Homo sapiens: one gene and its partners. The protein of the gene in region 5 purifies or fractionates together with the protein of the main gene of each other region. This does not show direct contact. Each region holds a gene or a part of one and is shown on either strand. Other genes may lie near its edges.

What was found.
Region 1: the proteins of FAM83F (region 5) and CPS1 purify together in Homo sapiens (affinity purification with mass spectrometry; one large-scale study listed by BioGRID and IntAct). This does not show direct contact.
Region 2: the proteins of FAM83F (region 5) and FAM83B purify together in Homo sapiens (affinity purification with mass spectrometry; one large-scale study listed by BioGRID and IntAct). This does not show direct contact.
Region 3: the proteins of FAM83F (region 5) and RBFOX3 purify together in Homo sapiens (affinity purification with mass spectrometry; one large-scale study listed by BioGRID and IntAct). This does not show direct contact.
Region 4: the proteins of FAM83F (region 5) and SPIDR purify together in Homo sapiens (affinity purification with mass spectrometry; one large-scale study listed by BioGRID and IntAct). This does not show direct contact.

The regions. Positions count from the first base shown.
Region 1 is NC_000002.12:210,675,098-210,681,144, reverse strand, and holds the end of CPS1 (carbamoyl-phosphate synthase [ammonia], mitochondrial isoform b precursor), read right to left. Parts: intron 5,418-6,047; coding exon 5,305-5,417; intron 4,139-5,304; coding exon 4,009-4,138; intron 3,259-4,008; coding exon 3,160-3,258; 3' UTR 2,038-3,159; downstream 1-2,037. UniProt on the Homo sapiens protein: Involved in the urea cycle of ureotelic animals where the enzyme plays an important role in removing excess ammonia from the cell.
Region 2 is NC_000006.12:54,844,280-54,850,828, reverse strand, and holds the start of FAM83B (protein FAM83B), read right to left. Parts: upstream 4,059-6,549; 5' UTR 4,003-4,058; intron 1,261-4,002; exon of another isoform or gene 1,163-1,260; intron 1-1,162. UniProt on the Homo sapiens protein: Probable proto-oncogene that functions in the epidermal growth factor receptor/EGFR signaling pathway. Activates both the EGFR itself and downstream RAS/MAPK and PI3K/AKT/TOR signaling cascades.
Region 3 is NC_000017.11:79,092,866-79,097,069, forward strand, and holds part of RBFOX3 (RNA binding protein fox-1 homolog 3), read right to left. Parts: intron 3,969-4,204; coding exon 3,788-3,968; intron 2,710-3,787; coding exon 2,648-2,709; intron 1,665-2,647; coding exon 1,586-1,664; intron 1-1,585. UniProt on the Homo sapiens protein: Pre-mRNA alternative splicing regulator. Regulates alternative splicing of RBFOX2 to enhance the production of mRNA species that are targeted for nonsense-mediated decay (NMD).
Region 4 is NC_000008.11:47,262,525-47,268,571, forward strand, and holds part of SPIDR (DNA repair-scaffolding protein), read left to right. Parts: intron 1-6,047. UniProt on the Homo sapiens protein: Plays a role in DNA double-strand break (DBS) repair via homologous recombination (HR).
Region 5 is NC_000022.11:40,038,888-40,045,515, reverse strand, and holds the end of FAM83F (protein FAM83F), read right to left. Parts: 3' UTR 1,982-6,628; downstream 1-1,981.

The DNA of each region.
Region 1 (6,047 bases), on a different chromosome or scaffold from region 5:
AAGTCTTTTTAAAGTTTGGAATGTTGGAAAACAGAAAGGCAACCAAAACAAAAATTAATGTAATTCCATTTTCAGCACCATGAGGTCTATCCTGTCTTCTGGTTTTCCAAAGCCCTTTTGTCAACAAAAAACAGAGTTTATATAGACACAATGTTAAATTAATTATTATTAATCTTCAAATTTTACCATATCTTACAAATAGCCGGCTCACATTAATATAAAAATTAGGACCCTTTATTAAATTCTCACAATACAATGATTAACTAATTGAGTTTTTGACAGTTTCAGCAAACAATTGTTTATTTAAAACATTGAGTTACATATCTAAATTGGTCACTAACAGCCTGCTCACTTTTAGTCAACATGTAATTTTTATCTTCCTCTGTGAATATGTATGTGTGTCAAGTGTGTTTAGATAGAGAAATAGATGATAAGAGTAGAATAAAGCAAATGAAGTAAAATATTACCAATAGGTAGATCTGGGGATTTTTTTACTTTTAAAATTTAAATCCAAAATTATTTCCAAATAAAAAGTTTTAAAACTTCTACCTAGTTTAAACATCCACCATTAAGAGTCCAGTCTCAACTTCTGCTACTAGCCCTTTCCCTCCACACATACCCTGAGCTCCAGTCATAACAACGTCATTGTCATTTTCCTAAATGTCCTTACCTTCTAGTCTTCCTTGGCAACTGCAAGATCTTATTCAAGGCAACACATGAATCCATCTCCTTAAAATGCCCTTCCCTGATCTCTGCAGGCAAATTATTTTCTTTACTGTGAGAAATGATTTCTTTTTACATGCCTACCTTCACCAGAATATGATACAGAAAAGTGAGACTCCATTTCGTGTGACCTTGAGCATGTTACTTAACTTTGGTATGCCTAAGTTTTCTTATTTATAGTATGGAGATAACAGCACCTACTCACAGGGATATTTTGTGGATTAACTAGGTTAACTCATGTAAAGTACTTACAAATGCCTGAAAAATAGTATGGACTCCATAATGTTAATTATTATGGTGATGGTGGTTGTGGTGCTGGTGATATGTAACAGAAACATGCTAGAATAATAGTAGGAGAGATTGTGATATATTCTACATGAAACATGGAAGAAACTCATTAAATATTTTCAGGTGAATGAATCAAAGTGATCAGGGATTACATAATTATATGATTATAGGGGACCAGCCTGCCCAACATGGCGAAACCCCGTCTCTACTAAAAATACAAAATATTAGCCAGGCTTGTTGGCGGGCACCTGTAATCTCAGCTACTCAGGAGGCTGAGGCAGGAGAATCGCTGGAACCCAGGAGATGGAGGTTGCAGTGAGCTGAGATCGCGCCACTGCACTCCAGCCTGGGTGACAAGAGCAAAACTCCGTCTCAAAAAAAAAAAAAAAAAAAAAAAAAGATTACAGGGAAGAAGTAATGAAAGTCTTGACCACAGGAAGAACAAGGAAGTGAGGGGGAGAGAAGATGAATTACTTTAAGCATTCGTCTAGAGCTATACAAAGTGGTAATCAATTGACTGTGAGGTAACAAGGAAGAAATAAAAGCTGTTATAGCATAATTATCTTAGGACCTTCACAAAGCCATAGTTTCGGTGGTAAATTGGGGATATGGCATCAGTGTGCTCATTGGCACTATTTCCATCAGACAATGCTGGTCAGCCTCTGATTGGGTTAAGTTACTTTTCTGAGTTATGCAAGACATTTGTTTGAAAGTTTACTATATATTTGTGGCAATCTTTAATCAGTTTGTGGTTGTAGTTATACATTAGAAAGGATCCAGATCAAAGATGGTTTATAGCCATATAACCACATAATGTTATGATGAGACTTAAAAGCAAGGGAGGGACAAGAAAAAATGAAAAATGTGACAGCTAAAACTTATTTTTAACATTAATTTTCTCATCCCTATATGGGTTTGCATGGAAAAAATAAATAAGCAATGCAATCCTGGCCCAAAACCCTATTTTATCATAGAAGTAAACTGATTTTTGTACAGCAACATAAAATAAAACCAGATTCAACTGCATTACCTCTTAATAGTATTTTATTTAAAAGTTCACAATTAGAGCACTTGTAATAACAGAAAATATTTAAAAGTAACAAAGGCTGCCCTTGGGGAGAGACTTTTTTCTTATATGTAGAAGGAATGGTGTCCTTGCCCTTACAGTGGGTGGAATTAATAGTGCAGTGTGGGACCCCATAGTTCAACAGAATCCATCGTCTTAAGGGAATGAACCTTACTTCCAAGTTATTCCAAAACTGGGGGAGAGTGTGAATGACAAAAATCTGATTATTTCACTCGGGCCAAGTTAAAATCCAATGATAAAAACAACAACACATCTACATAAACACTGTCTACCATCTGCTGATATAGTCCAGAAAACAAAACTGCAAACCAGTATTCCTTAAAGAAATCCATAGTCTAAAGCAGGAGAATCGCTTGAACTTGGGAGACGGAAATTGCAGTGAGCCGAGATTGTGCCACTGCACTCCAGCCTGGAGAGTGTGACTCCATCTCAAAAAGAAAAAAAGAAAAAGAAAAAGAAAAGAAAAGTCCATACTCTAAATGCCTCTGTCACATTTCTCAACTTCAATATAATGGGAAGGGATAACAATATTCCTGGATTAGCCAAATGGGTGAGAATGAGGATCCAAAAAGAAGCAATACACAAACATCATGATGGAAGGTTCATAAATTAAATCTATATTTAATTTTATCAAGTTTTTAGAGTATTCTGCCCTGTTAAAGTGTCCTGAGTTTGCAGATAGTGTTTTAAAAATAGAGTATCTTAAAGTATAGAAAGAGTTCAGAAAATAGAACAGCAACTTTTCCTACCTTGATCACCATTAATCAGCACCATAAAAAGTAAAAAGCTACACATAAGCACATAGGCAAGCCTAGTCCACCAAAAATACAGTATTAGTAAATGGATGAAATCTCATGAAGAGTAACTTAGGAAGGACTGTAAGGTTTTGAAGAAGTGACTGACAATTTAATTGCAAAAGACACAGAATATTAAGGCATAACAAAGTAAACTGAAATGAAGTTTAGTTATCAATATTCATCTCTGAGAAAGTTGTGAATCAGTTCCTTTAGATAACATGTGGCTCAGGTTGATTTAATAATGGGGCTGGGGTGTCTGCATCTCTATGCTGCTTTTCCAGCACTGTACTGCCTGTAGTGGAAAAGACTCTTGGAGTCCACCTTGCGAGATTTCTGCACAGCTTCAGCAAAAAGTTTGGTCACCTGAAAATATAATGGTAGGAATCAGCACCCTCCATGAGATAAAAGTGAATTTTTAATGAATGAAGACAAAAGTCACAAGTGTCTGTCCCCAGTTTTCAAAGGGGTATGGGATAAAAGGCATAAAAGTTTTTTATGTAATGGAGACTTTCTCCCATGTCTCAGACCTCACCATGGGGACTTTCTTTTATATCTCAGATGTCACTGTGAATACGCTTATTTCTCCTCCCATAGGGATTAAAACTGATTCTGCATAAAAAATAAATATGATAGGCAGAAAGTTAATGAGTCTCCACTCTGTTTCTCCCTGTGATAAATTCGATGGGTCATGTCCAAGTGAAACTGAACATGCCTCATGCAATCATTTTCTGTGAATTGAACAAGCACTTGTGCTACATCTGGACCATCATTAACCTGTTGCTTTTATATGGTGGCTTTCATTTAGAAACAATGAAATAAAAGTTTGTATCTTTATTCCATGTCATGCTGTCACTTTTTATTCAAAGGATAATTGTAAGGAGAGAGCCATGGCCATTCATGGCCTTTGATTATCTCAATTGCTTGATCACCAACTGTCCCATTTAAGCCATGACCTACCATGTTAGCATCATTATTTTAGATTATTAAAAATTCCTCTCTATTCTGAAAGTTACAAAGAGGGGAAAAGAGAGATGTGCATCTACTGATTACACTCTTAAGGGAGGCACAGAAATAAAACTCCCATCCAGTCTATATCCAAGGAAAAGACTATACCTGAAAATTAGTGAGGAGAGGGATTCCACTATCAACAGCTGTCCTCCGAATCACATAATTATCATGGACAAATTTAGTGTTGTTGTTGGGAAGGTTAATCACTAGGTCAATGCTGCCATCTCTAATCAATCTGGAAAAATAAACAAAAACTTATAGACAACAAGGCATATTTTATAGTTAGTTTATAAAATACTAACATAAATTGCTCTCTTAGCCATTCAAGTCAATGCCATGCTGAGTTGACTGCCATCTGCCCTCCTCTATTGCTAAGTAGATGTTTAAATTACACTTATATAGGGATTATATTGTGTTCTTGAAGGAATTCTAGTGCAAGTCTAATGGAATGCAGATGTTTGTTTTCTCTTTAAAATGCTATCTGTTCACTCATTAAGAATTGGTAATTTGATAGATACTTATTTTTTAAAAAGAGGTGATCCCTCCACCATTGAATGCCCTTTCACCCCCATGTTCCCACTCCCACATTAACTCTATTGCCTCCTTAGTAGTGCTAATTATTGTTTTACAATGCCCCAAACACGGAGCTATTACATCCTTGGAGGCCTGCTAAGGTTTGAACACAATGCCATTATTTTATTAAAGTGATAATAATTTATGTGTTGGTTTCTCAAGAACGCTAACAAATAACATATTGCATAGAATGGCACAGCCATTCTGTAGGCTGCACTATCTTAAAACAGCAGAGAATTATCTCCTATGTACTTATGCCACATAGATCTTTAAGGGTTGATGCAATGGTATTCCTGAAGATTCACACAATCTGCTGAAATAAAATGTCGTACAAAATCTAATGATGACATGGTCTAAGGCATGAAAACCTGGTCAAGGAATGACCAATTAGGTAATCCAATGGATGACATCATCATAGTACTCAACATAGGTTCCTGTATGTAGTAAGTGCTCAACAAATTGATTTATTATGCACAACCTTAGTGAAATATAGCTGGTCATCTTATACTCGATGTACTTATCTATACACAATATAAGTTTGACATGAAATATAAAGTGCTGCATTACATTCTTCATGCTCTCACTTGTTTCCGTCAAGGAAAGTATCCTTACTAAGAAGTATTTTGAAACACGTTTCATATCACCATGTACACATGACGTTATGTATTCCATAGTGATGGAGAGTGAAACTTGACAATCATCCACAAATGTATTCATTTTTAAATTTGTTTTAAAAGACTTGCAATCAAGTAAGGTGAAATATTCATATACTGGTTCTCAAAGTTAATCCTCTAAATTATTTCAGAAAACAGTATGCCTAGTTCTTACTTTCTGATGGAAGAGAGGCTGGGATTCTGTCCTTCTTGAGACGGCCATGCCACTGGGGTGGCAGGGACATTGTTGGCGTTGAGCCAGTCTGATGTGGCTTCCGTGGCAAACAGCTGCATTTAAAATGAAAAAATCAATTACCGTATCACAGTGATTTCTTATTTTTATGGAACATGTAATTTAAAACATAAAGAAGAAGAAATTGCTGAACATGAGAAGTAGTATAGTGCCATGGATAGAGACTTGGACTCACAGTCCAGAGGCATGGGCACTTTAAACATTTTTTATATATTTGCAGTGATTTAAAAAACTTAAGAACCTCAATTTTATTTGCATTTCCATTTTAATAATTATATGTTTAATTTGAATTTAATAATTCAATGACAATTTCTCATAAATTTAATAATTTCTCAATTATTCATGGCTAATTCCTTGTTAGCAGGTCAAAAAATCCCCATGGCCACAGGCCCATCATAAGCCTTGGGAATAATTTTGTTTTACTCAACCAGGCTTTGTGTGGAGGTATTCACTGCAAAGAAGTTTTGCCTGTAACTGTCACAGCTAGAATCTATAACCTCATATGAAAACAAAAAAAGGAAAAACATATGGAAATGTGTTGGGACTTTGTCTCAATTGTGCTTAAGCTAAACTTTCTCAGTTTTTAGCTGGCAACTTCTATTGAATTTGTGGTAATTTTGTTAAAAGTTAATACCAGTCTTTTTAATGATTTGACTCTAAGTTTT
Region 2 (6,549 bases), on a different chromosome or scaffold from region 5:
CAGGCTGGTCTTAAACTCCTGACCTTGTGATCCACCCGCCTCAGCCTCCCAAAGTGCTGGGATTACACGTGTGAGCCACTATTTCCAGCCGTTAAAATATAGTACTTTTAAAACATCTGTTGAATGAGTCTTATGAGACTAGGTATTTGGAGTAACATGCTGTTAAGAATTAAAGCCATCATTGCCAGTGTGTATATATAAATGACAGCCCAAACATCTTATGTTGAGTTATTCTATTACCACCATTGAGATGGAAGATGACACTCTTTAGTGCTTTGAAAACTGCCTTTTCTTCTCCAAGTAGTAATGTTTATGTAATCAAAGAAGGAATCTGATGTTAAAGAACGAAAACCTTTTGAAATGAAAATTTGGCCAAAGAAGTGGAAATAATAAGCTTCACAGTGATACTGTGGGGAAACCTTAGTTAACATTATTTTATGATACTCTCAATAAGAAGTGATCACAGAGAATTTCAGAGCAGTGTGGGTGGGACACAGGAGTGACCACATAGTCTAAACCTTTCACAATACCAGTGAAAAACCTGCAAGCCTAAAGAATGTTAATACTTTGTCAAAAAACATGACTATCCCAGGGCTGCTAATGTTCAATTTCACAAATGATTAATGAACACAAACAACGTCTGCTGTGACCTTCAGAGAATAGGAAGGAACTACAAAAATCAGTGGACTTGATCCATTTATTTATTTGTGTACTTATAATTATCATTAGGTTCCTAAACTGGAAGCTTCCTAAGATCCAGGAATATATTTTTACTTTCCTACCCCTGGAGAGGAACATATTGCTTGGCAGATAATGGTCAATAAATATGTTTAATCAAAGGGATAGTGTAAAAGAGCACAAAGTTAGAGCCATTAGATAATCATCATCACTGCATAACTTCTCTATAAACTCTTCAACATAGGCCCCTGCCAGTAACCGGGAGACTACACCTGACTCTATGTCAGTATGCAAGAGAGGCTGACCATGACTAATTTAAGTTTCCCATGGACCAGTAATCTACAAATTATTTAAGACACAGCTGAAAAGATAAATGTCATGTGCCCTTAGGGGACTTCTCACCCCACTCTTAAGGACAATGTAAAAATAAAACAAAAGACAAACTGGGTAGTAATTAGATGTCCCCAGAGGAAAAGTTTCCTACCGTTCATGATCATGTGATTCCAGGACTTCCCAACATAGACAGCATGCCCAATGAATATCTCTCATATTTGGATCATCTCTCCACCAAGGCTCACCTTCCTTACAGCATCACAGCCCCTGAAAACATCCTTTGCCCCCTCCATCACCCACCCCTACCTTCTGTACATGTTAGCCCCCTGCCTCCTTAGTGCACCCTCCTCCCCAGCATACAGCCCACTTGCCCCCCACTCCACCTCACCTCCACGTATATCCTTTCCACTGGAGCCTACCATTTCCCCCAGCTCTTGTCTCAGGAGCCCACAGCACTCAGCCTCCCAATCCCCTTGGGAAGCCTGCTCTACCCTTAGGGGCCAGGATACTTCTAGACAGTGCCCATGCCCATTGGCACACCTCAGTGGGAAGGAAGCTCCCACTGAAGGCTCTAACACATTTTCTCAGAGAAATGTTGTTGGCTTTGATTCTTGATGGAGTTTAAGTGCTATTTGTACAACTTTTTATCTACGGCATCCTTAAAGCTGGGCTGTGAATAACCATCATTTAGAACTCTGTTTCCATGGGGGAGCGGATGTATTCTGATGTTCAGATGATAAATTCAACAACAAAATTCTAAAATACATTCCATCTCCAGATCAGAAATTAAAGGAACAAAAGCACATTTCAAAATGAACAAAACATTGTGTTTAAAAAGGTGAATTGTGAAACATCCATGGGACATTCACATTTTGCAACTTATAAAGGGACAGACGTGCAAACTTACCTAACTAGATAAACAAGGACAACTTGAAATTTTACCAATAATTCATTAAATTAAGCTAAGTGGCCTCTTTTCAAAAGGTCTCCTCCAACCAGATTTATGTATTAGAAGAGTCCCGCTTTGATGGGATAACAGTTTCACCCCAAGATTCTGGACACTTAAAAGTATAATAACATTACATTTTGGCAACTCAGTATTGTATAATGTAATTAAATGGGAAACAAGTAGGTTAGTTGCTGCAAGGTGAGTCATGGTCAAGAAAATACTCAGTGAATGAACCTCCACCTTAACCTATAAAGAACGGTGGACGGTAGAGGAAATAAAATAGAAAGATTAATAAAATTAATTACTTCATCCCAAAAAAGTTTAGCCAGTTAGCGTCATAAACTCAAGGGCATAAACGTAAAAGACATCACTGAGTCAGCACCAGAGGTGTGGTTTGTCTCCATCTATACAATCTCTTTCAGCAACTGTTCAACTGGTAATGCTTCCCACAATAAATTCTCAGCATCTGCGGTCTAAAGCCTGCCAGCTTTAAAGGCAGGATCCACCCAGCCCCTTAGGCAGGCTCTAGAGGGTGTAGCCAGCACCCTAAATAGGTGTATACCCCACGTGTGCCTGAGCCCCAAAGGCAAGGGGGTGGAATTTGCAATTGGAAGGTGTGGGGACTTCTACTTTTCTGGGAACTATAGGAAGACAGAGAGAAACAAACGCAACAAAGACCTGCACTCCCAACCTTCCATCATTCTGTTTCACATTATTCTCATTCTCCAATCATTTTGAGCCTCCCACCGCCACCCCCACCCCCACTCCAATAAAAAACAAAAAACCCCAGTTTTCTCTTCTAAGTCTCTTTCATCACTCTCTCCCTTCCTGTTGCTTGTCAGCAATGATTCAGCCTCAGTCATGGATTTCCTCGGGGCTCTTGCACTTGTTAGGATGAGAAAGGGAAAGAAGGGAGGTGCCTGCCAGTAACCTAGCAAGATGTTTGTAACTGGGAATTTGGACATAAGCTGTTGAGCATTAAATTCTAGCCTCAATTGCTTGCCACCCGCACACCTTCTTCTTAAGTGTTCTGGCCGCCTGAGCTCTCATTTCCACTTCTAGGTCAGAGAGACCCTATAACTTCACCGCTCCGAGCATAGACAACATGCTAACCTGTGTTTCCATAACCTCCCAGCCTCCTCCTATAAAGAAAGCGCTGTTGTCTCTTTACATACCTATGACTCCTGCAATGAACACAGGCATTCTCTGCCTGTCCATTAACCTTACACAGGTAAGTCTCCCCACATATCACACAGAATAGGCCAAAAGTCTCCAAGTCCCGTTCCAGGAGCAATCTGCTCTAGGCCTACTCTCCTCTTCTAGATCACTCACCAGGATCTAGAGCAGTGGTTCTCAAACTTTGGTAGGTACAGGCTCTCCTGGAGAGCTGCTAGGGCACACAGACCCAGACTCAGGCCGACCCAAGTATGAAAAACACAGGTCGCTACCAGTCTGCACTCAGAAACGGGATCCTGTACAATTAAGAGGTTGTGTGAAAAAACTGTCTTTTCAAGTTCTGCTCCCCACTCAGGATCTAAAGAACACCCACGCCCCTCAGCGACCTAAGCTCTCCCACCTTTTCCCGGAACCCCCCACCCCCATGCCCTCTGCTTCCACCCTGGACTTCCTCCCACGAGACTTTTCCCAGCGGTCTCTCCTCCCGCTTCCCCTCCCGGGGTCCTCGGCGCACTCCTACACTGGAAAAGAGGAAACAAATGCAGCCTCCACGAGGGGCGGCGCCAGTCCTCTGGGGACCCAAACCGACTCCGCCCGAGACAACTTTTCAAACTTCTCAACTCACTCGAACCCCCACGACAATGAAAGAAACGTAGAAAAGACTGAAGCAACTGAGCTTTACACCCTGTGGAATTTCCAATCCCGCCTGCGCTCCCAAGGGAGAGTCCCCTATCCCTCCCGTCCGCCGCGCCGGCCAGGGGCGGGTGAAGCCCCGGGCCCCCCCAGTACCCCAAGCACCTCAACCCTGCACCCGCTGGGGTCCCGTCCGCCGAGGTCCGGGGCAAGGGAGCCCAAACCCCACTTACTTGCCCCAAGCCGCGCGCAACCGCGCCCGCCGCACAGCGCCGGCCGCCGAAGGTTTGCCTCCCAGGAAGCAGCAAGCGCCTGGGCGCGGGCAGGGAGGGGAGGGGAGTTACCTGCCCAGCGTCAGGTCCGCGGAGGGAGGCTGATTCCGGCTCGAACCGCGCCTCCCCGAGACAAGGTGCAGCGCTGGAGGGGGCGGGAGTGGAGACGGGTTACAACAAGTCCCAAGTGGTGGCACGCCAAACCCCGAACAGCCAGAAAGCGCTCGGAACCTGTCTGAACTCAAACACCCTGCTCTCTCCCAGCGGAGTATGAAAAAGCCTTTCTTTCCTGCCCGCCCTCGGGGCTACGGGGCAATTACAAGTCCCGACACCCTGCTCCTGGTCTGGGGCGAGGAGCGATCCCGGAGGACAGCGACGCTCACCTGGGAAGAAGGCGGATCTAGGCCGAGCGGGGCCGTGGTCCCGTCCTCGCTTTTCCCTGGGCTCAAGAATGCCTGGAGGAGAGGCCTGGGGGCCGCGGGTGAGAGCAAGGGTTGTAGCACCTTCGAGAGTGTGGGGCGGATTCAGCCCACAGTAGGTAATTCCAGTGGGCATCCCGCAGTGCAGACTCCTTCTCAGTGCCTAAGAGTCTTTAGGCTTGGAGAGGACGTGGGGAGTGGAAAAGTAGAAGAAAAAGTGCTTGTGCCTTTACTTTTTTATGTAAAAGAATTTCAAATATCATCAAAGATTTTGGTACTGACTCTCAACTGTCCTAGTTACAGATTTGGGATGAAAGGATATTGTTTAAAATAGGGAGATGTGCGTGAAAGCAGGTCCCTCTAGGTGGGATACTGCGGAGCAATGTTACGGAAGTGGAGACACTATAATTTAAACATAAAATACAGTAATTAATAAAATTTATTTTTTAATTTCCTTGCCTACACCTCAGTAAATCTGTCATGAGTATTTATAATAATTTGTGTAATCACGTAGACTTCAAGATAAAGTCATTTGCAGCAAATGTCTAAAATGCAGCCTAGTACTGTAAGAATGGAATTTAGGGTAGTAATAGGCATATTTTAAGCGTCTGGCATAATATATAAATTATCATAAAATTGAATTGACCCTTAAAAATGACTTTCGTGGCGATTTTGCTCCAAATAAAACAGTTGAGGAAAATGCTAAGCCATTAAGGTTTGGATGAATCCCTGACTGACGTGCTGATTTAAACTGAAGAATGAAATTCGCATTAGTCTAGATACTGAAACATCAGAGCAAAGGCCAAAGACAGGAAAGTAAAAGCAAATTCCAGGATTAGTACAAAGCTAATCTTCCAGATCTTGGTGTCTGGTTTGTAGTTTCATTTCTTCAAAAGAATGTAGAGAATTGTCTTGTTTTATGTATTTATTTTTTCCTTCTGTTCCTAATTTTCACATCTCACTTTTTAATATTTTTTCAGTTCTCTTCCTCATTTTTGGCATGCAATCCATTGACTAAATTAATATTCTCTATGTGGTACTTAATATACTGGCGTGTTTCTACAGCCTTTGAGAATAATTCTGAATGTCTCTTAAAGGTGCAATACTTATGAACGTTTTGAGATGCACTTATCCTATTGTTAAAAATATCAAGAATATTTGGAGTTAAATGAGGCCCATAGGAAGTCTAATTTTATTAAGATATGCACTCATGCTAAGTCAAGTGAAATCACAAAGAAAGAAGGATATATCTACTCGAGTGTTCATTATTAAAAGCAAACAAAAGATCAGAAAATAGACGTGGAGAGGGAGAATCTATTAAAGGTATTATGCTATGTAAGACCTTTCCATCCTTAATGGGATGGAAAAATAGATAAAATTGATCTCACCCCTTAAGGAGCCTAGAAGGTGGGTGAGGAATGTGGACAGAATTTCACAGAACTATTAGAATTTGAGTTGGGTCCCGACTGATGAGCAAACTTGTCAGGAGAATGAAATTGACATGTGATTAGATGCTGAAAGAGCAGAGTAAAGGCTAAAAGCAAGTTCCAGAACCACGCAAATCAATTACCTGATTTGGCCATGGGCATCACATGGTTGTGAGTGGTGGAAGATACATTTAGACATAAAGTTTGGAGTAATTTTCTCACAGAATGAGATCAAAATTATTTATAATCTAAGATTGTTGTGAGAATTATAAATTAGATATGGTATGTGGAAAACATCCCAGCTCTTGATCTGTGGTAAGCCCGTAAGTGCATTACTATTAATTATACTGGGAATCAGATTGGGAAGAACTCTGATTGCAAGCTGAAAAATATGGACTTGTGTCTCTTGCTGGTGATATGTTGACTAATCTAACAGTTGGTGACTTTGGTATAAATTCTAGGGAGTCAGGAAGAGTAGTTATGCCTAGCTGTCATGTGAATAGTATGACAAGGGAAGGAATAGTGAAAATGAAAAGGAGGAAACCGATTTGAGAGCCAATGAAATAGAAAATCAATATGATTTGCATCAGATAGAATGGATGTAGAATTGAAAGTGAAAGAAATAACTAGGTTTTCTTTTCTTTCTTTCCTTTTTTTGAAAC
Region 3 (4,204 bases), on a different chromosome or scaffold from region 5:
TCATGGCCAACAGTGCTTCTAGGTCACAGCTTGAGTTATGTCTGGGTCACTTCTCTGGGCTCAGGCCTGGCCTCTCACTGTCCTTATGCAGAGGGGGGGTCCCAGCTTGAGCCCCACCTCCTCGCACCCCAGCAGGGTGGCACGGGGCATCTTCAGAGCACTGAGGGACCTCCTGGCGGGTTCCTGGGCCTTGGCTCAAGAGCCTGGGGCCACTGAAGCCAGCTACGCTGGGAGAGGCAAGCCTGCTGGGCATAGTGTTCAGAGCCTTGCTCTCTGGGGGGGTCTCTGGGTCCTCCTGGGCCCACCTGAGGCCCAGCCCTGTCCTACTGGGGAGAGCGGGTCCTGGATGCTCCAGCTCTCCCATGTCCTGGGCTGCCTCCAGTCAGGGAAGGCTCTGAAGGGGCCTCCCACCCTCCCACCACCCAGTTTTCCCAGAAAAGAACAACACAGCAAGTGCAAGAGAAGAAAAATTGGGGAAAAATAGAAAATCTTAAAAATACAAAGTGAAAACACAAGAGGGAACCCTCCGTGCGTTAATGAAAGCTTTTAGCTTGCAGCTGCACGGAGGGCCCAAGAGCCAGGGTATCACACCTCCATCCGGGTGGGGCCGCACCAGACCCGCGCCTGTGGCTGCCCACAGCCACCACAGGCTGCTGGGGGTGTCTGAGGCTCGTTAAAAATTGAAAAAAAAAAAAAAAATTGGAGGGAGTCATCAAAACCAAGAAAGATGGGAAAAATCCATATTGCCTCTGAACCTCCTCCCTCCTCACTCTCCCAAGATGTTTTCATCTTTGATGCTGGATGCCAAGCTAGCTAAAACCCGTGTTCACACCCCGGGGCTGGGGCCAGTGGGTACAGGAGGCAGGTGTCTGCTGGAAGCAGCTCTGGGTGCAGAGTGAGCTGGGCTGCACGTGTCAACAGCTGGCCACACACACACACACACACACACACACACACACACAGAGACACGCCACGCCGCGCACCTCCCCGCCCCGCCCCTTCCACCCCACAGCCTGAGGGAGGAGGCTGGGGCAGAGCAGGCACTGTTTCCCCAGGACGCCAGGAGCCCCCAGGAAGCCAGGAGCTAGAGCCTGGTGAGAAGCAACCGGTAACCCACACTCCCCTCTCGGATGCGATGCGAGGGGGCTGCAGCAGTGCGGGTGGGCCGTGGGTATGCGGTGTGGGCAGAAACAGCCCCGGGGCCTTGGGAGCCTCTGCTGGGAAGGAGAGGCGGCCCTGGTTTGGTTTCTGAGGTTTTCCTGGTGGAAATGGGAATGGAGGGGCCTCAACGGGACTTTATTATAGTGAGGGAGCTCAGGGAAACGGATCAGGCACATTGGGGTGCTTTCCAGAGGACCAGATGGTACGGTGGGCTGACCAGCCATTCAACCTGCTTCCCCGCAACTGAGAGGGCGTGAGGGGCCAGCCCTCCCCTCACCCTAACTCACATCCAGGCCGTGGTCCTTCCAAAGTCTCCGGGACCAAGGCATTGGTCAGAGGGCTCGGCCTCTCCCCCAAGGGCCTCACCACCCATGCCCAGCTGTTAGGACTGGCACCCAGGGCTGGGCGGGCCTGGGCTCCTTACCATGGTTCCAATGCTGTAGGTCGCCGCGGGCCCGATGGTGTGATGGTACGGGTCGGCAGCTGCGTAGACTCTGCCGTAACTAGGGAAGAGCGTGGGAGGGGGAGTGGGAGGAGGGTGGGGGAGGGGGGCAGGTGAGGGGCAGCAACGGCCTCCCACCTCCTCCCAGACACTACATGGGCACCCTGTACCGAGGTCCCATCTGCAAGGCACCCTCCCCTCCTGCAAGGCCTGCAAGGCCTACCCCTCCTTCTTGTTAAGAAGGAAGCTTCTGGAACACAACAGGCAACCCTCTCAATATGCCCACAGTGTGCTGACCCTGACGGGGTGGGGGGAGGGGGTGTGTTCCACTCAGTGCTACGTGGAGGGGGATGGTGTCCTCATGGAGCTCGTCTGCAGGGAAAACAAACTTCCACCCCAAAAAGAATGTGGTAAATACTGGGGAGGGTTTCAAGAGAAGAGAGAGGGTCAACGAGGAGGGACCAGGAACACTGCCCCCAAGAATGTGACACTTGTGTCCCTCACGACTTTCCCTTCAGCAGTTTGTCTGTGCAGGGAACTCTCAGCTCCTTAGAGAGCAGAGCTGGGCCACGGCACCCTGTACACCACACTTCAGGGAGATGGAGCCGGGGCTGCCAGGAGGGAGGGGGTACAAGCGGTCCCCAGACCAGAGTGGTGGAGCTCAGCTACCAACAGGCCAGATGTCTGAGGGGAAAGGCACTAGGCTAGGTTGCTCCAGGAGGAAGCACTCAAGCGTCTGCCTCCAAGACAGACAGCCACTGTGGGCACGGGGCTTGCGGGGGGCGGTGGGGGGACTGGGAATCAGAGATGCGGTCTCCACCTGGGGTTTCCACAGCCTCCCCATGGGGTAAGCAGGAAGTGACTGAAGTCAGGGGCTCACTGGCTCAAGGGCCACACTCAGACCTGCTCCCCTGTCCCGACCCTACTCCCGCCAGGCCTGGAAGAGTGGGTTACGCCTCCTGCCTGTCTGGGCCCAGCTCCCCAGGGATCCTTGTCCATCTTCTCCCCACCCTGCTCCAGAACAGTGCTGGCCCCCGGCCTCACCTGTCGCTGTAGGCTGCCGCCGCTGCAGCGGGCTGAGCGTATCTGTAGGCTGCGTAGCCTCCCTGCAGGGTAAGTGGGAGGAGAGAGAGCAGAGGGACTTAGTGGGGCTCCCCAGGGAAAGGCTGAGTGGGGAGAGGAGACAGACCCTGTGCGGGTGGGGCCCTGGGAGGGACTACAGACCTTCCCAGCCTCCCAGCCTCGGCTGGGTAAGGATTAGGTGGTACCTGGCCTGGGCACCTAGTTCTGGTCTAACACAGGACCGAGGACTGCAGATGGCTAGGTGGCACAGTTCAGGGCGAGGCAGGTCTGCCTGTCCACTCCATTCATTCACTCATTCATTCACACATCCATCTGTGCACTCCACACACATTAGCGGGTACCCATGACTCATCTGGCTGGGTGCTAGGCCTTGGCAAGGAAGAGGTGCTCACAGACCTGCCACCAGGCCACTGAGGCCTGACTTGGATGCTGAGGGGCTGGGAGAACCCACAGTGACTCTGGATAGTGTCCTGGACACCAGGAAGGGTCAAGGGTAAAGGGCACAAGAGGACGTGAGCTCAGATGATGTCCTGGCCTCAAATGGGCAGGTAACTGAATTGTAGGCAGCTGCCCAGGACTGAAGGGTGGCTGGGTACATGGGGTGTGGCCGTCAGTGAGTCTGAGACAGAGGAAGCAGCACATGTGGCCCCATGAAGGGGGAGAAAGGCCACCGGACCCCATCAAGGGGGGTAGGCCCTGGAGCACAGGCACCCAGGGGCCCTGCCTCCTGGCCCCTCTTGCAGCCCGTGCTGTGGGTGCCTTAGGGGCTCACTCACTGACCGCAGCGTGGTTAGGGACGTGGCAGAGTCCCACTGCCCCCATTATATGAGGCCTTGCCCACAGGAAGATGGTTTCAGCTCACAGGGCTGCTGGGCGGCCCATTAACTGCTCCCTTGATGGGTACCAACAACCAAACTGTGCCATGCTGGGATTCTCAGGGATGCCATACTCTGGGCAGACGTGGCACCCTCGCCCTCCTGGCTTCAAGGGTGGGATGGGATGGGATGGGAGGAGCGGGCAGTGAGAGAGGAGACGCCGACTTCTCATTGAGACCCACAGAACGCCTGATCCCACCCTCCCTCCCGGCGGGGCTACACTTACATAAATCTCAGCACCATAAAATCCATCCTGATACACGACCCTGGAAGCAAACGGACAAGAAAGTGGTGGGAACGCTGGAGAGGTGGGGTAGGCCGGCTCCGGTGTCTGCTGAGGAGGGAGGGGGCACGGTGCCAGCCCCGCCCATGGGACTGGCATTTTAACAAGCGTTTGCTCCAGTGCCCTGTTTTGGTATAACAATAGAGTAACACCCTTGCTGATCAGCAACTTTCTCCCACAAACCCCGGGGCCCATAGCCCACCCGACCCCAGGCAGCTGTGCCCCCCACCCCTTTAGTGATGGAGGGCACCAGACCCCAGGGAATGGGAGCAGAGAGGGCTCAGAGAAGCCCCTCGCTGACCTCAAGAGTGGACAACGGCCCCATTAAAGCATCCAGACAAGGTTCTGGGGCTCTGAATG
Region 4 (6,047 bases), on a different chromosome or scaffold from region 5:
ATCCAGTTCCAAGCTCACTCACGTGGTTGTTTCTTGACAGCTGCATAGGGCAGCTCACAACAGGGTCCTGGCTTTCCCAAGAGCAAGAGAGAGAGCAACAAGATATCGGTCCCCGTGTCTTTTATAGCCTAAACTCAGAAGTGACATCCCATCTCCTGTCTATTCATTACATGGACCAACCCGGTACAATGTATGAGGAGACTATAGAGGGTCCCCAGGAGGTGGGGATCACAGGGGCCACCTTGGAGGCTGGCTTCCACAGTATTTCCCAGGAATTTATTTTTTGTTTCTGTCTCCCTCGGTCAGTCTCAAAAGTACTTAATGGTTGGAGTGTTGATGTGTAGTGCCGGCTAGCATGCTCCCATTCCATCTTCAGAGGTGACTTTCCCTTAGGCACTACTTTGATTATATTGTTAGTCCTCTATCTAAATCTCATTTTACTTCTTATTGGCTACATCATAATTTACTGCAGAACTTATCCTGTGTTTAGTGCTTTATATGTATTAACTAATTTAATTATTTTAACAGTCCTGTGAGGTAGATACCATTAGTCTCATTTTATGGATGAGGAAACTGAGGCTCAGCAGAGAGGCTAAGTAATTTGCCTAAGGTCACACAGCAGTTAAGGGAAGAAGCTAGGATTTGTATCCAGGTAGTCTGCCCCAGACCTTGCTTTTGTTCAGGCTCTCAGCCTGTTATTCACAGCCTCCATAATATCTGTGTCTTATTCCTTTACAGCTTTGCTCATTATTTATCTTATAGGTAAACTAGACTACTGCGTCACTGTACTTGCTTGCCCCTTGGTGGTAATTGCGTATGTTCTTGGTTTGGAATAATGCCAGTTCTCCCATTTCTGCTGATTGAAACCTTTTTTTTTTGAGACGCAGTCTCGCTCTGTCGCCCAGGCTGGAGTGCAGTGGCGCGATCTCGGTACAGGCGCCAGCCTCCACACCGGGCTAATTTTTTTTAAATTTTTATTAGAGACAGGGTTTCACCGTGTTAGCCAGGATGGTCTCGATCTCCTGACGTCGTGATCCGCCCGCCTCGGCCTCCCAAAGTGCTGGGATTACAGGCGTGAGCCACTGCGCCCGGCCATGAAATCTTAATCATCCATTGAGGCCTACTTCAAATCCCACCTTCTCCCAAATTATCCCAGCTATAAATGAACTTTCTTCTGTATGTTCTTGGTTTGGAATAATGCCAGTTCTCCCATTTCTGCTGATTGGAATCTTAGTCATCCATTGAGGCCCACCCCAAATTTCACCTCCCAAATTATCCCAGCTGTAAATGAACTTTCTTCTGTAGTCTGTGGAATTTTATGTAAATAACTCTTACTATTCCATGTCTTACATTAGGTTTATTTGTGTCTACACCTTTATTCCCTTATATTCTAGACATTTAAGATTAGGGACTATTTCTTCAGCCCATATTCCCCAGAATACCTGTCATATCCCTTGTATGTACTAGATATCTGATGAATTAATGAAAGGAGAACTAGTTTAGAAGATTTGCAAGTATTCCAGGTGTGAAGAAACAGGAGGAAATACCCTAGTCCGAAGACTCGGATATCTGCCTCAGCAGTACAGCTGAATGATTTTGCAGTTTTGGACAAGCCACACAGATATATCACGACTCTTAAGATGAAAGGTGGTGTGGTTATGGACTAAGGTGGTGGAATTAGGAATAGAATAGAAAGGACTGGGTTGACAGACTACAAATGGAAGGTGAGATTTAGGCAACTGCAATTGAAAGAGGAAGAGGAGGAAACCCATGGTGATTCAGAAAGTCGAACCTATGAGAAGTGAGAAAGTTGTTTGCCTCTTAACTGATGTTAGGATATATAGATATATCCTATATATCACATATATAGATATGTGGTATTTAAGTCCCAGGGAGATTAGGGCAGTCAGTTGCTCAAAGGCTGGGGTATCTTAGTTCTTTCCTCACTCCCCTCTCCTCCATGAGTTTCTCCTGCCCTAGCCCCTCACTATCCCTTAACATGCTGTGATTCTTCCCTTTGTGCCTTGTGTTCTCCCTTTCCTTATGAAGTAGCCAAGGACGACCACATATACTCCTGTTCTTGGGCAGCAGCTTGCCTTTTGAGATTTTCTTTTTTTTTTTTTGAGATGGAGTCTTGCTCAGCCACCCAGGCTGGAGTGCAGTGGCCCGATCTCGGCTCACTGCAACCACTGTCTCCTGGGTTCAAGTTCTCTGAATAGGGCAATATACCTAACATTGAGTTGTCGTTTCTTTATAAAATGGGGTTAATACCTATATTGCTGGGTTGATGTGAGGATTAAATTATGAGAATGCATGCGATGATATACCGAGCATATAAACACTCAATAAATGTTGGTGATAATGAAAGCAATTAATAATGAAACACCATGATAATTAAAGAAATCATATGAGGACAAAGATATTGTACATCCTCTACTGCTTTGTCTCTAGATTTCCCTGGAATTGCTGTCTTTCAGCTTCTTGAACAAGAAATAGGAAAAAGGCTCATTTTCAAGTTTTTCAGTGATGGCAGGAAATTCTCATAGTTATCTTGGTAGGAGTACCTCATGGTTCCAGTTTAAGGCCTTGATAGTCTCATTGAATGATTTACTGGTGGCTCTACATCTCAGAATTAGACTACTTAGTATTGACATCTCAGTTGTCTTTTTTTTTTTTTTTTTTTTTGAGACAGTCTTACTCTGTCGCCCAGGCTGGGGTGCAGGGGTGCTATCATGGCTCACTGCAGTCTTGAGCTCCTGGGCTCAAGTGATCCTCCCATTTCGGCCTCCTGAGTAGCTGGGACCACAGGCCATGCCACTGTGCCTGGCTAATATTTAAATTTATTTTGTAGAGATAGAGTCTTGCTGTGTTGCCGAGGCTGGTCTCGAATTCCTGACCTCAAGCCGTTCTTTCTCCTTGGCCTCCCAAAGTGCTGGGGTTACAGCGTGAACCACTGTGCCTGGCCTAGAGGTTGTCTTATTCCTCAAACCAAAGGGAAAGAGAGGAAAGAGAGCTTTTATTGAAAGCTTTCTATATGTCAAGCACTTTGCATAGAGTACCTCATTTAAGGGAAAACATGTTTTCTTTTTAGTCAAAATAATACATGTTCATAGGTAAGGTAAAATAGTACAAAAAAAGTTTGTTGTAAAACTCAGCAGTCCCTTGCACATCTCATTCCATTTATTTTTATTGAGATAACTGTAAATTCACAGACAATTGTGAGTAATATAGAGAATAATTGTTTTATAAACTAAATCTGGAGGCTGGGCCTTGCTAGATCAAAGTGTTGACAGATTTCATGTCTGGTGAGGGCCTGCTTTCTGGTTCACAGACAGCCATATTCTTACCATGTCTTTATATGGTGGAAGAGGTAAAGGAGCTCTCCAAGGTCTCTTTTATAAGGGCATCAATCCCGTAACTTCTAATCACCTGCCAAAGGCCCCACCTCCTAATACCATCAGGTGATCTGCCCGCATCGACATCCCAAAGTGCTGGGATGACAGGCGTGAGCCACCATGCCCGGTCTGAAGTTTTTTTTTTTTTAATACAACATAAAACTCTCATGATTTATCGAAGTTGTTGTGCATATCAGTAGTTTCTTTGTCTTTTTTTTTTTTTTTTTTGAGTTGGAGTCTCACTCTCTTGCCCAGGCTGGAGTGCAATAGCGCGATCTCGGCTCACTGCAACTTTCCGCCTCCCCAGTTCAAACAATTCTCCTGCGTCAGCCTCCCAAGTAGCTGGTACTACAGGCACCTGCTGCCATGCCTGGCTAATCTTTTGTATTTTAGTAGAGACAGGGTTTCACCGTGTTGCCCAGGCTGGTCTTGAACTCCTGAGCTCAGGCAATGCAATCCACCCACCTCGGCCTCTCAAAGTGTTAGGATTACAGGCATGAGCCACTGTGCCTGGCCAATAGTTTCTTTGTTTTAATTGCTGAGTAGTGTTCCATATAATGGATATACCAGAGTTTGGATTAACATTTATTATTGAAGGACCTCTAGGCTGTTTTCAGGTTTTGGTTATTGCAAATAAAACTGCTATAAACATTTGTGTACAGGTTTTTGTGTGAACATAAGTTTTCATTTCTCTGAGATAAATGCCTAAGTATGTAATTGCCAGAACCTATGGTAATTTGATGTTTAACTCTATAAGAAACTGACAAACTTTTCCAAAGTGGTTATATCTGTATAATTTTGCAGTCCCATTGGCAATGTTGTTATTCAGTTTTATAGATAATAAAATCTACCCTTTTAAAGTGGAAAATCCAGTGGTTTCTAGTATATTTACAGAGTTGTACAAATGTTCCTAATTGTAGAATATTTTCATGACCCCAAAAAGAAACCCCATAGCTATTACTAGTCAGTCACTCCCCATTCTCTCTTCCCTCATCCATTGGCAACCACTAAGCTACTTTCGGTGTGTATGGATTTGCCTATTCTGGACATTTCATATAAAGTGTGGTCATTTTGTGACTGGCTTCTTTCATTAAAAATAATGTTTTCCAGGTTTATACATGTTGTTGCATGTATCAGTACTTCATTCCTATTTATTTTGAATAAATTTTTTATTGCATGGACATACTGCATTTGAAAAATCCATTTATTAGTTGATAGACATTTGGATTATTTCCACCTTTGGGCTGTTAAGAATAATGTTGCTTTGAACTTTTTTTTTTAATTGAGATCCGGTCTCATTATATTGCCCAGGCTGGTCTCAAACTCCTGGCTGGGCTCAAGAGATCCTCCCATCTCAGCTTCTCAAGGTGTTGGGATTACATCCGTGAGCCATCGCACCTGGCCTGCGTTGAACATTTGTATATGCATTTTTATGTAGACCTAAGTTTTTCTTTCTCTAGCAGTGGAATTTTTGGGTCACATAATAACTGTATGTTTACATTTTGGATAACTGTTAGAATTTTCCAAAGTGGTTGCACCTTTTACAGTCTCACCAGCAAGGAATGAACATTCTAATTTTGCCACATTCTTGCTAACACTTGCCATTGCCTGTCTTTTACTTTTAGTCATCCTAATGGTTATGAAGTGTTACCTCACTGTGATTTGGTTTGCAGTTCCCTAATGAGATTGAGCATCTTTTCATGTACTTATTGGGCATTTCTGTATCTTCTTGAAGAAATGTTTATTCAGCTTATTTGGCTGCGTTTTCATTGGGTTATTTGCTGTTTTATTGTGGAATCACGAGTTCTTTAAAATTCTGTATACTGTTCCCCTATAAGATGTATGATTGCAGATATTTTCTCTCATTCTTTGGGTTTTCTTTTCATTTTCTTATTGAAGTACAAATGTTTTTAATAATTTTGATGAGGTCCAATTTGTTTTTTCTTTTGTTTCTTGTGCTTTTCGGTGTCATGTCTAATAAATCATTGCCTAAACCAAGGTCACAAAGATTTATTCCTATGTTTTCTTCCAAGAGTTACAGTTTTAGCTCTTACATTTAGGTCTGTGATTCATTTGGAGTTAATTTTTCTACACACTGTGAGGTAGGGGTACAACTTCATTCTTTTCGATGTGGATACCCAGTTGTTTCAACACTGTTTGTTGAAAAAATTGTTCTTTCTCCTTGAATTGTCTTGGCACTTTTTTGTTTTAATTGAAAATCAGTTGACCATAAAAGTAAAGGTTTGTTTCTGGTCTATGAATTCTATTCCACTGATCTCCATGTCTGCCTTTATTCTAGTACCATACTGTTTTAATTACTGTAACTTGGCAGTGTTGAAATTAGAAGTGTGAGTTTCTGACTTGTTTTCTGTTTTGAGATTTTTTTAACTGTTTTGGGTTCATTACATTTCCATATGAATAATAGCAGCTTGTCAATTTCTGCAGAAAGCCATCTGGGATTTTGATTTTGTTGAATATATAGACAAATTGGAGAGTATTATCATCTTAACAATATTATTTCCCATGAGCATGGGTTGTCTTTTCATTTATTTAGATCTTCTTTAATTTCTATCTATGTTTTACAGTTTTCAGTGAAAAAGTCCTGCACTTCTTTGGTTAAATTTATTCCTAAGAGTTTTATTCTTTTTGATG
Region 5 (6,628 bases):
TCTGCCACCGCCAGCCAGGGGCGGACGCGCCTCCGCGGGCCGGGAAGGTGTCCCCGCGCCGAGGCCCCCCGGAGACGGGAAGCGAACTCGACGGCCGGGCCAGCCCACCCGGAAGCCCTCCCCCAGCTCACACCTGCTGGCGCGTGACGCCCGGAGCCGCGCGCGCGCCCGCCAGTGCCTGCCCGGCCGTTCGGGGCGCCCCGGCCCGCGCGCCGGACGTCGCCCCGAGTCCCTCCCCGCCCCTCGACTCAAATCTCGGCGGCGCCCGCTCCCGCGGAGCGCGCGCTCAGCGCCGCCGGCCGCACCAGCCCCGCGCGCGCTCACGCCCCCTCCCCGGCCCGCTCCCCGCCCCACGCGCGCTCCCTCGCGAGGACACGCACACGCCGCGCCTCCGCTCACCGCCCCGGGCCGCGCCGCGCGCCCCCGGGGGCGCCCTCGCCGACCCCCGGCCGCCCCGCTCCGTCCCGGCGGGGCGCGGGGGAGGGGAAGGACGGCGCGGCCGCCGCACCTCACTCACCGCCGAGCCGTGCCGGCTCCGAGTGCGCGGCGTTTCGCTGTGAGGCGAGGCGCGCAGTCTCCGCTTCTCCGCAGACTATGGAGGCGACGTCGTAGGGGGGACTGAGGGGCGCAGGGGTCACTCCCTCCCGTTTCGCCTTGCAGCAGCACGGGGACCCCAAAAACTAAAAACAAAATAAACAAACTTTCCCCTCCGCATCCCTCCCCCAAAACCACAACACAAACACTCGGGGGCCCGCCCAGAGCCCCACTCCATTGGCCGCAGGGAGGATGCTTCCGGCTCTCACTGGCTGGCTTTTGTGCCCGTCAAGCTGTCGTTCCGCCCCTCCAATTCCTCGTTGCTGCCTTCGCCCCTCATTGGTTAAGTGCTTCCCGTTTAACGAGCTAGGATTGGCTGAGCTGCCTGAGCCAATCATGTGGGGACACACCCCCTCAGCATCCCAGAGGCCGCTTCCTCGGTCGAGGACCCAGAGAGACTCAGGGGAAATTAGAGCATGATGGCGGCCGAGGTCGCTTGGCGCAACCATCGTCTTTTTTCTTTATTTTTAGCTCATTAGTGCCTTGCCTCGGCGCTGTTTCCCTAAGCTCCTCTCTCCAACCAGTACTGCCCTATAACGGAATCCATACGTGCCGGCTCCTTGATTTATCCCCTCCGAAGTGCTGAGTGTGGGCTGGTTGTGCGTCATTGGACTGTCAGGATGTCACTCCCCAGTCAAATCTTCAAGCTATTGGTGGAACAGCAAGAAAGCCCGTCCATCAACAAGGGCTAATACCATTGGTTTGACTCCACTGTGTTATTTCCTGGCACCTTATTGGGCAAATAGGTGCGTCAGATCCGGATTCGCTCTGCTACGGTTAATTGTTTACTGGGGATTTGGGGTCAACTCTGGTTGTTTGGCCAGTAGTTGACGATAATAGTGACTCCCTTGCCTATTTTGTGCCAAGTATTGGGCTGCTTTCTTCACAAACATTATCTGGTTAAACCTGGGAGTAATGCAGTATCCAGTTTTTATAGATGGGAAATTAAGGCTGGCGAGAGCTTAGAAAACTTGCCCAAGGTCATCCAGATACAGAGTCGTTGGTGGGCCTGGCATCTGGTCCTGGGTCAAACTGCAGAGACTTCACTCTTTTTATTATGCTTTAGTGCCTCCACCTTAGACGATGTACTTGTCAGCCAACCTAGCATCTTAAAAACGTTTCATTTGGAACTCAAAGTCTTCAGTCAGTTTCTAGAAGTGACTTTGTTGGGGACTTACTATGGAAAGGTTGTCATTGCCTCCACCACATCTTCCTCCCCAGGACCCATTCCTCTCCCCTTTAAGGTAGACATTTCTGCCTCCTTTTATGCGAAGCCTAGGCACCACTCGCAACCCCTGACCAACCATCTACAACTCATTCTTTGGAGAGAGTCCTCAAGAGCTGGAAAACTAGGAGAAATCAAGTCTAAAGAGAGAGACAGAATAAATCGTCTTAGAAATGAATAATTTATTGCATGCAAAGAGAACAGCCCTTCAGCTCCTGGAAATCTTCCAGGATAGTTGATGCTGAGCAAGACGTGTGCTCCTGGCTGGTGGCCACTGGGTTCTTTCCCTATAGCAGCATTCATCGAAGTGAATCCAACATTTCAGCCAGAGGAGGGCAGGACGCTTAGGACCCATTGCCAGTGAGCTTTTGCGACCGAAATGATCTCCAGGAGCACAACGCTGGACTCTAGCCCACATTCCATCTTGGGTAATTAACATTTTACCGTCCCAAATCCCCATCCCCTGTAGCTTCAGTGGGATCACCGCCCTTGTTTCACTTCCTGATCCAAGCTGTTGTGTAACCTCCTTGGCACTGCTTTAATAATAAAACAACCATTGTAACATAGTAACAATGCTCAACACTTAGAGCCTTTCAGCAAATGAAGCCAAGGTATTTCATAAACGTCAATTAAGAGTAAGTGGCATGTATTCCTAGGGCAACTGCAAGAAGGACAGAAGAAAGATCGTGCGTCAAATTCTAATATAGGTTGTAAGAACGTGAGTCCTTAAAATTGTATGCACATACCCCATATTAGCCTTCCAGTATGGGGATTCTGAACTCAAAAACACAATGAATGAGAAACATTCAGAATCTAAAACCTTCCTAATCTTCAAAGTTGGTTGCTTGGACCCCTATTTTAGCACTTAAGTTGGTGCTTGACTTTCTGGGTAATTGTTTGATACATTTCAGTTGTAAGTACCTTGAAGCAGATGGTTTCTTTTTCATCTTTGTGTCCTTCACATTGTTCTGATCGTAAAAGGCCCCCAAATAAATAATTACTCAGTAAATGTTTAGTGAGCATGTCAGGCACTTTTACTAAGTTACAAAGGCTATGCAGATGAGTGATACACTCTCTCTTCCTTCAAGGACCTCAGTCGAGTAGGGGTGTCCAGCAGATAAGCAGATAACCATGATGCAGTGCTGTGAGAAGGTGCCCTGGAAGCAAATGGTAGGGACATGGGACTCCATCTCGGGAGGGACAGAAATGGCTTCCTGGAAGAAGTGACACCTTCAAGGAGAACTAAAGAATGAGTTACGGTTAGCTAGGCAAGAGACTGGTGATGTGTGGTGACCTACGACATTTGCTCTCTGGTGGCAGGGAGCAGAATGGGAATATCCAGAGATGGCCAAAGCCTGTTCTTCTTAGAATCTTTGTCCATAAAGGCCTCAGCAATTTGTCCACTCCACCTCATTGTGCCTTCCCTCCCAGAGACAAAACAAATGCCTGAAACCTTCTCCTATTTGCCCACTTGAGAATAGGAAAATAATTTCCAAATAAGATGGCCGTTTTTCTGATCATAAAAGTAACATTGAGGCCAGGCACATTGGCTTATGCTTGTAATCCCAGCAATTTGAGAGGCCAAGGCGGAAGGATTGCTTGAGGCCAGGAGCTTGAGACTAGCTAGAGCAACACAGGCAGAGCCCATTTCTACAAAAAGAAAGAAAATAAATAGTTGCGCATGGTGGCCTGCGCCTACAGTCCCAGCTACTTGGGATGCTGAGGTGGGAGGATTGCTTGAGCCTGGGAGTTCAAGGCTGCAGTGAGCCACACCACTGCACTCCAGCCTGGGCAATAGAGCAAGACCCTGTCTCAAAAAAAAAAAAAGTAACATTGAGTAAATATAATATTAACTCAATATTTAATATTCTGTATTTCAGACAATATAGAAAGTTATAAAGTAAAAGCCGCCCATAGTCTGTTACATCCAGACACTGTTAAGGAGACTATCTTCCCAGACTCTTTTATGAACAGACCCACAAATGAGTTTCTTCTTCCAACAAACAGTGGGATGTGGTTCAGGGTCTTTTCTGGGCTCTCAGAGCTCTCATCACCCAGAACTGCGGCTTTGGATGGAACCTGCCCTCGCTTTCTATACTTATAGGAAGGAAGCCAATCTGTCAATCAAATATTTATTGTGGAGAAGATGGGTTTCAATTCCTGTCAGAGCCAATGGCAGGACTTTTGGGGCTTACTCAGCCTGGTGTGAATGTTAAGCCAATGATTGGGGTGAGGGCGTCTGCCCTGTAGGGCTTACAGGCATGCCTTGGTGCCTGCGGAATCAACTCATACCCTGAAAAGGCAGCCCAGGTCAGAGAATGCTATGCCAGGGTGCTCTCTTGTGCTTGCTCTCATTTCCTCTCTGCATGCTACTTGGGGAAAATATTTTTCTGTTTGTTTGTTCCAACCCACCCAGCTTTCAGAGTAAAAAGACTCGTTAAGCCCTGCACACTTGTATGCAGGCCAAGTGCACTATGTTCTTGGAGCGCTGTGCTATTCTTAGCGCTCTATATGTGGTGTTCTATACAGTTGGCTTTTTGCTGGAGGGGAAGGCAGATTTCATGAGTGATAGCTGCCTTGGCTGGCTACCAAAAGTGCTCTGAGCCATCTCAAGCAACAGGCCTTCCTTTTTTCCCTTGAGAGGTTGTGTTGTGATCCCTGCCCTCGGCTTGGACAAATTCCAAGGCAATGGGAATTTTTGTGAACAATTCTGCAATAACCCACAAGCTGGGGGAAGGGGGGATAGCAAGCTGGATCTGCTCCAGCTCTAATTTCTGTGACACAGAAGAACTCCTTCCGCCCTTTGCACTGGCCCCTCATAGCTATGAAGAATTTGGAAGTGTTCATTAAGCATTCTCCAATTCTTGAAGCTTATAACAATGGGAAGATCCCTGTAAAGGAATCTGATCCAAAAGACAAGGGGACAGCTGACAGCTGATACTGCTTGCTTGGGCAGTGGGTGTAGCCATTGCCAAAGACCAAGAGCAATGAGGCAGGGAAACTCTCTAAAGAGGGCTGATTACAGAGGGCATGCTTATAAGCATTTATTGCATGTCTGGGAGCATTTACTGTGCAACACATCCCTTGTGTCTGTCTCACCTTCTAAATCACCTATCATTTTTTATGACCACACTTCCTGAGAAGCTACTTAGTTAAGCAGCAAACACTGGACCCCCTCATGTGTGCTGGCCAATGCTAGACACACAGGAGGCAGCTCACAAGAGAACCAGGATTATGGTTAATAATAACTACCCTTTGGTGGACACTTGCTGTGTGTCATACACTGTACTGAGGGCTTTACGTGGATTATGGCTGTTAATCTTCACAACAACCATTGTTATCCACATTTTCTAGATAGGAAAATGGAGGCACTGAAGGGCTAACTAACCCATCGTTGAACCTAGGCGGTCTGACTCCAACGAGTAAGCTCTTGTCCACGCTGCTATATTGCCTCTGGGATGTCTGACTTGGGAACCCCACAGTGCAGCTGGGGAGATGACCAGCCCTCAATGAACAGTTGTCCTCGTAGTCTTTAGTATCTCAGCCCCATCCTCTTTACCCCCTATAAACTCAAGGAAAGAAATACACCTCTTTCCGGCTAAATTACTGCCTCTGGTGGTCCTTCCTCCACGTCCCAACTGAGATCTGGCTTTTCTCCCACTCCCTTCAAATAGCTTCCTTCCCTTTCTTCTCTATTTTCTTATCCTAGCTTTTTAAATAATGGCCTGCGGCCATCTCCACCACCAGGAATGCTCTCTCGTTTTCTCTCTCTGAACCTGGCTTCTAGCCCTAACTCTACTGAAATTCATTTCTCTAAGCTCATCTATAACCTTTTTGTGGCCAAGATCCAAGAGACTTTCTCAGTCCTTGTTTCCATGGCTTCACCAATACGTTTTACTCTGAGAATCTTTTCTTTGCTTCCCCAAATAGCCAGCTTTCCTCCTACCTCTACAACTGTTCATGCTCTTTTCCCTACCATCTCTTTCTCTAAGCTCCTTCAAAGGAATCTGTCTGCACTTCTCTCCTTATGTTGTCTCTGGGGGCGTGCGACGCTCGCAGGACTCAGCAAGCTCAGCTGGGTCATTATCCTACTTTCACCTCTAAGATGAGAATTCTATCTCTCCATCTCCACCCTTCATTCTGCAGCTTGTTTGCTGCGTGACTTTTTGCAAGTCACACAAACTATCTAAGCTTCAGTTTCCTCGTTTCTAAAATGAATATATTGAATCGGATTTGTTATTCTCCACCTAAGATAATGATAAAACCTAACATTTTAACCCACATACCAGGCCAGGCGTAGTGGTTCATGCCTGTAATCCTCCCAGCACTTTGGGAGGCAGAGGCAGGTGGATCATGGAAGTCAGAGGTTCAAGACCAGGCTGGCCAAAATGGCAAAACCTCATCTCTACTAAAAATACAAAAATTAGCTGGGTATGGTGGCGCGCACCTGTAATCCCAGCTACTCAGGAGGCTGAGGCAGGAGAACTGCTTCAACCTGGGAGGTGGAGGTTGCAGTGAGCTGAGATCGCGCCACTGCACTCAAGCCTGGGCAACAAAGGGAGACTCCATCTCAAATTAAAAAAACTGCATACTATGCCAGGCAGGACTAAGTGGAAAATGAAAGCATGGGGTTCTGTGTTCACAGGTTTCATGCCCATGAAGCCAGCTCTAGTACCAGCCTCTGCTCCAAGCATTGTATATGTATGAGCTTATTCAGTCCTCATAGTAACTTTCTGAGGTAGATACAGATGAAGAAAGTAAGGCAGAGATAGGTTAAGCAGTTGCCCAAGGTCAGTTTTTAATTGGTAG